Linked DNA regions of Homo sapiens. The protein of the gene in region 1 interacts with the protein of each later gene in a pairwise test. Each region holds a gene or a part of one and is shown in the gene's direction. Other genes may lie near its edges.

Region 1 (3,500 bases):
GTGGCGGTGGCCCCAACAAATGATCTGGCCCTTTTTTTACCTGGCTGCTGTGGGTGGAGGGCAGGAAACGCCTATGCTGGCCTTTTATACCAGGTGGAGAGGGTTCTACAACCCCTGTTGCCCCAGCTGGCTGAGGCCTGCCTTCTCCCCACCCCTGGCCTTGGTGCTATGTCTGTTTTGGGGTGTCCCAAGCCTGAGGGGGCAGCTTGAAGTCATCGAAGGAGTAGGGATCCTGGAGCCAGCTGATTCAGGGTTGAAATCCTGGCTTTGTCACATTCCTGCTGTGTGACCTTGGTGAGTTCACCTAACCTCTCTGAACCCGCAGTCTCCTCTTCTTTAAAATGGGACCTCAGGGTTGCTTGAGAATTAGTAATATAAAGTAATAAAGTAAATAAAGTACTAAAGTAAATAAGGAGCGGGCTGCTCCTGCAAATCTTGTTTTTTTTCCATTCACCTGCCTTGGTTTTTGTTCTTTTTCTGTCCCTCTCTGGGTCTTACTGAAGAACTACTGCTTGGGGGTGAGGAGCAGGGTTTTCTTTTGGAGAGAGGGGGAACTAAGTTTGAATAATCATGGATGGCCTGAAGGAGAACTCTGGGGGTGGGGGTACCCTTAGAAGGAGACCAAGGGCCGGACTCCCAGTTGGAGCCAGCAGGACTTAAGCCAGATGAGAGGAAGCACATTCTAGGGTCCGTGGTGCTGAGTTTCTGGGGGCTGGTTCTCCAGAGCTGTTGAGCAGCCTGCAGTCCATCCTGCATGATGACTCTTCAGGCCCTTCCACTCCTGGAACTCCAGAGAGGCCTTGTTATTTGCAGCTTGAGCCCAGGACTTGGTGAGACTGGGTGCTTTCCATTTTCCTCCCAGCCAGGGAGCATCTCGGCTGTGTTCTGTCTGTCACATGGGCCCTGGCCCAGAGTAGGTGACTATTGATGTTTACGCAGGATCTCAGGGGTGGAGAGTCCTAGAGAGATGGCCAGCCCTACAGCCTGACATCCCACAGCTGATGGCCCAGCCACAGCCTGGGGCCTTGCCAATGGATTGGGGCTGGCTCTCCAGCCTTAGATGGTCCCACTGAGCCTCCCACCACTCTTGAGGGGCTGGTGGGATTCCCCTTATTTAGAGGAAGGCTCAGAGATGTTAGGCCACCTGCCAAAGCACACACAGCCAGGAGCTGGTGGAGCCTGGTGTTCATTTGCCCCTTCTCCTACCCTGGAGCCCCATCTGATCTTGTCGTCACATCCCCTACTTAGCCAGGGTTTTCTGGGGGTGCAGCTGGGACTGGGGATAACACTGACTTGGGCCTTCATCCTGCTTTTGGATGGGCCATGGGCTTCCAGGGTGCTGTCTGGTGCTGCTTCACCCTGGGGTTAGCCTTGGCCCAGGCGACCCTAGAGATTCCTGTACCCCCTGCACTGCCAGCTAGGACCCCCCCATCCATCCTGCCCTCCCCCATCCCTGCCTGCCAGCCCAGACTTTAATGAGGGTAATTTAGAATCAATCACCAGCGGGATCTGGGAAATCTAATTGCAGCAAACTGATTGCCAATTCGATTGCGGGCACCAGGGGGCTGTGGGCGGCTCATTAGACCTGTCCCCCTCCCTGGGCTGGGGCTTGGGGGTGCTCCGTGGGGGATGCAGGGCCTGAGTAGGCAAGGCTCCTGGAGAGCTGGGGGGAGGTGGACTGTTGTTTTGGGAGCAGGGGAAGGGCATTTTTACCTGACAGAAGCCATACACTATTCCCTGTCCAGGCCCACAGTTGGGGTATAGGTGCCTGTGTCAGTCTTTACCCTCTGTCATCCACCCCTTGCTTAATGCCCCCTCCTCAAGGCCTGGATGCCATTGTTGGGGGGTGTCTGCAGCTGCATCTTACCTGGTTCCTGCCTTCAAGATGCTCCCTGTGTCAGGGAGACAGACACAAGCACAGATGATGACGAGGAAGATGATGAGAAAGATAACGGCCAATACTTACTGCTGCATGTCATGTGCTAGGTGTGGTTCTAAGTGCTTAACATGCTTTATCTCAGTGGGTCCTCACTATGGCCCTGTGAGGCAGGCATGGTTACCCCATTTTACAGATGGGGGCACAGAGGCCCTGAGAGGTTGAGCAATGTGCCCACAGTGGGGCAGTTAGCAGGACTCTGAGCCTGGAGCCTGGGTGCTTATGGAGATGCTCGTTCAAGAGCGTGGGGAAAAGAAAGGGCGATCAGACTGTTACTGTGTCTATGTAGAAAAGGAAGACATAAGAAACTCCATTTTGATCTCTTTCTTTTCCCCACACAAGGGCATCAGGCAGACGTGTGGGCTCCTGCATGGGCGCCTGTCTTGATTGACTGCGTTGCTCACTCAGCAGACATTTACTAAGCACCTGCTGTATATGAAGCCCTGTGCAAGGGGGCTGTCAGTGTTCAGTTGTGTCGTGTGTGTCCTATGTCTTGTCTGGCCATGTCTTGCTTCAGGCAGGTTTACTGGTGGCAGGTGCATGTGCTTTTGTGAGGTCTCGAGGGGGGAATTGAAGAGAAGCAGGGAGGAAGCCCTACCCCTCCTCCCTGACAGGCTGAGCCCCAGCTCTGCCATTAGAAGTGGGTGGATTTTGGCTGGGCGAGGTAGCTCACGCCTGTAATCCCAGCACTTTGGGAGGCCAAGGCGGGTGGATCATGAGGTCAGGAGTTCAAGACCCACCTGGCCAAGATGGTGAAACTCCATCTCTACTAAAGACACAAAAATTAGCCAGGCGGTGGCAGGTGCCTGTAATCCCAGCTTCTTGGGTGGCTGAGGCAGAGAATTGCTTGAACCCGGGAGGCGGAGGTTGCAGTGAGCCGAGATCGCATCACTGCACTCTCGCCTGGGTGACAGAGCGCGACTGTCTCAAAAACAACAAGGCAGGCTTGGTGACTCATGCCTGTAATCCCAACACTTTGGGAGGCCGAGGCGAGCAGATCACAAGGTCAGGAGTTCGAGACCAGCCTGACCAACATGGTGAAACCCCATCTCTACTAAAAATACAAAAATTAGCTGGGCATGGTGGTGCACACCTGTAATCCCAGCTACTCCAGAGGCTGAGGCAGGAGAATTGCTTGATCCTGGGAGGTGGAGGTTGCAGTGAACTGAGATTGTGCCACTGCACTCCAGCCTGGGCAACAGAGCGAGACTCCATCTCAAACAACAACAACGAAACGAAGAAGTGGGTGGATTTGGCTAAGTGACTCTTGACTCAGCCTTAGTCTCCTCTTCTGTCAGACAGATCCAGTGATCCCTGACCCGTTAGGTGGTGGTGAGGAGTGGTGGGAGGTGCAGATGGTTAAAAGGAACCTGCTGCTGGGTGATGACTTTTAATTATTATACATTCCCCAAGGTGGTTGTGTCTCAGAGGTGAATTTGCCACTAGCTTGTCAAGTGGTAGCAGGCAGCCTGTTCCCTCTCTGGGCCTCCACTTCCACGTCTGTTAAATGGGAAGAGTGAATGGTGACCCAGGGGCCCTTGTAGTCTTCAGATTTGAGGAACTA
Region 2 (3,931 bases), on another chromosome or scaffold:
ACAAAAGACACATTTGATCGCTCGAGAAAATAAACATTTAAAAAACTCAGTGGAAAGAAAGACTCCTAAAATATATCCTGTCCTTTAGGAGCAAAGCTTCGTTAGGACACCGAAGTACTCAGAAATAATAGGCACTTACTCTTCGGTTTACACACACACACACACACACACACACGGATTAGTTTATAAAGTTCCAGGATCCAGACCCGGTTAACACTGAAGTTGCTTTTTAGGGGTCTGCGCGCTCTCGCCTGGCTGCTGGGAAGGAGGGCTGGGAGGCGCTGAAGCGAGGGCAGATCTGAGTGTCTGTAGGAGTTGCTATTCCAAAAAAAATCATTACTCTCTAATTGTTCTGATTTTAGATCAGCAAAGCGTGCCGGGCGGTGGTGGAGAGACTGAGGGCGGACAAGGCGAGAGGGAACGAGCCGTCCACCCTTCGGAGAAGCCTAGGCGCCTTGTAAGTAATTCGCGAACAGTCGGGAGAACAAACAGCCAAGCGGCGCTGCAGTGGCCGCACTTGCGCGCGTCTCAATCCTGGGGGCTCTGCGCGCCCGCCCCAGTCCCTCGCCCCATTGACTCAGTGGCTTCTCCGGGCGCTGCAGCCTCCGCGGGGGGCTTCGAAGGGCCGAGGGGCTCCGGCAGAGAGGGAGTGGAGAGGGAGACGCGCCGGGACCGACGAACAATCCTGCCCCTGCGGCAAAGGTCTCTACCCGGCGCTGGCACCTCGCAGGCCCCTCGAGGAGCACGCAGGGCAAGCGGCCCAAGAGCGGGGGAACCGGGAAGTGTGTGGGGCTCCAGACGGAGTAGGAAGCTTTGCCCAAGGCCAGGCTGCAATCAGGCAGCCGCAACAGCCGGGCGCGGAGCTTCCCACCTGCTGCTGTCCCAGCTGGGCCGCAACTTCCTCCTCCCCGGCCCGGGCCCGACTCCCCGGCCGGGCTCCGAGGGTGGAGGGGGACGAGGCGGCGGCAGGTTCCCTCCGCTGGCAACGCCTCGCAGCATCCTCCCCTCCCCGCCGCGGTTCCCGGGGCCGGCCGCGCGGCCAGGCGCGCTGCGATTGGCCGGCAGCGGCCGGGGGCGGGGCCAGGAGAGCCGGTGTCGCACGGACCGCCTCAAAAGAGCCCAGGATATTGCAGAGCGCACTGGAGCCCTGGCCAGCGCGCAGCCTTCCCGGCGCCGGCGGGCTGGGTCTTGGGAATTCTGGTTTGCTTTGGCTCACTCGCTTTTTACAAACCACTGGATCTTACATGCCTCTGTACCCCCCACTTCCACTCCATGTCCCCATGCTCCTGCGCCAGCAACAGGTAAGGGCTGCTGTGTTTTCTTCCTTTTCGCTCGCTGCCGGTGTGTCCTGGGGAATGGACTCTGGCCGCCGTCCCCTACCCTACCCTGCCCCGCTGCTCCAGAGGTGCCCAGCTGTCACACTGCTGTAGCGCTCACCCACACTCCGGAGTCCCAGATCATGCCTATATAGTTTGTGTGCGCACCAGAACATCCCCAGAGCTAAAAATACTGAGACATGCTTGGAACAGTTGAGCAATAGAAACAGATTTCTCTGCAGCATCTGTTTGTGCTCATAACTTCCAATGCACCAGCTGTAGCGAGATACTGGGTTTGGAGGCAAGGGCGAGAGCGTCTGTGTTCGGTTCTCACTCTAAGTGGGGAAAAAAAGAAAGAAAACGTGGTTGCGGGTTTGGGGGTGCGTCTTGAGCCCTGGTCTTAAACCTTGGCAAAGCTTGGGACTCAGCACTATTCTTGATCCTTGGCTTTTTTTTTTTTTCGTCATTGCTTCAAGTATAGCTGTGAGTTTCAAACAGAGTGAGTGTCTCAAAGTTGCCTTCCTGAAAGAAGAGCGGGAGCCCGAGTTGGATTTGAGCCTGAGGATCGCAAAACTTTCACATTACATATCACTCTCCCCTAACCAATTTGTTATTTTCAGTAATAATGGTATTAATACCTGGCTTGAAGACAGTGTGGTTTTAGGAAAGCAAAATAGTCAAAACGACTTGATTCTGCAAAAAGATTGCATCATAGCGTGGATTCATCATGACAATTGGAAAAAAAATAGGGATAGGGAATGGGCAGTTTAATGTCTGTGTCTGGGTAAGGATATCATAGGATGATCACTAGGATAAAAGGCTGTGAATTCCGACGATTTTCATAAATTCAGATTTTACCTGTTAGGAAATAAGGTGTTATTTGAAAACCTCGGATATGCAAAGAAACCATATTGCGTTTTATCATTTGTTTTCTTTTCACATTAATAATCAATAGGCTGCCAGATTTCCTCTCGCCAACCAATGTTGTGTGTCTGCTGTACATTATCTGTACACTTGTTAGCGTTTTCCTGCTCACTTCCAAATGTTTCATTTCTATTTGCCATTATCTGGAAAAATCCTGGTGCTCAGAAGGGGTAAGAGATGTTAATTGAAGCATGGTGGAAAGGGTGAGGATAAGGTCAAGGCCATTTTACTTAGCTTCCTCCTCTCTCATATTTTAATGACACTTTATTTTTTAATGTTCTTGGTCTCCATAAGAAATATTTGATCTAAACTCATGTGAATTTTGCTTTTAAAAAAAATAAAAGAACACAGTCTTTCTACATCCTTTGGATTCCTGAGTTGTAGAATCTCTGGTTAGCTGTAGCGTCCTTGTATGACTTTTGCGTAGCCTGAAAGATTGAAAACAGCTACCTGCACAGATTAAGTGTTTCAGATTTTTTTAAGTGTATATTTTTATTTACCAAACATGTCTGTTTTTCAGCGTATGCAAATGCTGAGCAGTGCTACAAGCCAAGTGTCGTTGAGTATAAATGTTAGACAGGGGGCTCACACGTAGATAGATGGGTATCCCCCTCCCCTCCCCACTTCCCCCTCCTCCTCCCTCATGTTTATTGAGCTTCTAAGAGGCTGCTTTCCTAGCAGTTGTGCTCACATAGCAACATGTGCCCAGAGCACACTCAGGCTGTTCTATATGGCGTCAGCTGGGGAATAGCTGCTCTAAACACTCATTAGCAGACCTCTCTCTCAGCCCAGTACGTTTTCTTTTGCTATCTTTATTTCCTATCCTTAGAAACTTTCTTATTTATTGCACACCATGACCATATTACAGGACACATTTACTCTCATTTGATTTTTTTTTTTAGTTATTTATAAGCCATATTGGAAGTATTACCTATATAGTCAAAGCAATTTAGATCCCCCATTTGTACCATGTGATCTCCTTGACCTTACATTTATCCATAGCTCTTTCTCCTTTAACATCTACCTAAGTTTAAAACGCTGAACTATTTTTTTCCATTGCTTATGCTTAATTTTGGCTCAGCCTATAAATAGTCTTAACATGAACAGCACCACATGTAACCTCTCAATTTCCCAAAAATACTTTCTACATCATGGGTTATGGCCTGGATAAAAATGATTATTTGTGTCCATGAAATTTACATCTAGACCCTTAAATATTTTGGCTGGAAGGGAGATTTACACATTGTTCATCAAATCAAATTTCAATTCTCTGGATTTGTATCACTTAGTGTTCTCATCTACTCCTCATTGATTGCATCTCAAACATTATTTTGAATATATGCTTGAAATAAAGTTGCATGTAAGCCCTGTTTTTTTAATGATAGCTTTTCTCAGCTGCTCACGAATTGGTAATTGCTAGTGAGAGGACCGGGCAAGGAAGTTTTCTGCTTGCTTAAAGTCGCTCAGGCATGTGGGCAGGTTAACAGTAAAAGCAATTTTTACCATGAAATATTAAGACCGTTACCCCATCAAACCTTGACAGGTTCTAGACTTTAGCTATGTAATCAGCTCCACAAAAAGTCTGCATACATATATGTGTGTGCACCTGCATACACACATAAATCTGTTTGGGGGCATATCTATTTAAAGTGGCAAAAGTTTTCTTTTTGCCAAAAAAAAAAAAAAAAAAA

Evidence for each region. The genes of interacting proteins can lie anywhere in the genome.
Region 2: the proteins of SDC3 (region 1) and KCNJ2 interact in a two-hybrid assay, tested with the Homo sapiens proteins (one large-scale study listed by BioGRID).

The regions. Positions count from the first base shown.
Region 1 is NC_000001.11:30,898,759-30,902,258, reverse strand, and holds part of SDC3 (syndecan-3), read left to right. Parts: intron 1-3,500. UniProt on the Homo sapiens protein: Cell surface proteoglycan that may bear heparan sulfate. May have a role in the organization of cell shape by affecting the actin cytoskeleton, possibly by transferring signals from the cell surface in a sugar-dependent mechanism.
Region 2 is NC_000017.11:70,168,401-70,172,331, forward strand, and holds the start of KCNJ2 (inward rectifier potassium channel 2), read left to right. Parts: upstream 1-1,131; 5' UTR 1,132-1,301; intron 1,302-3,931.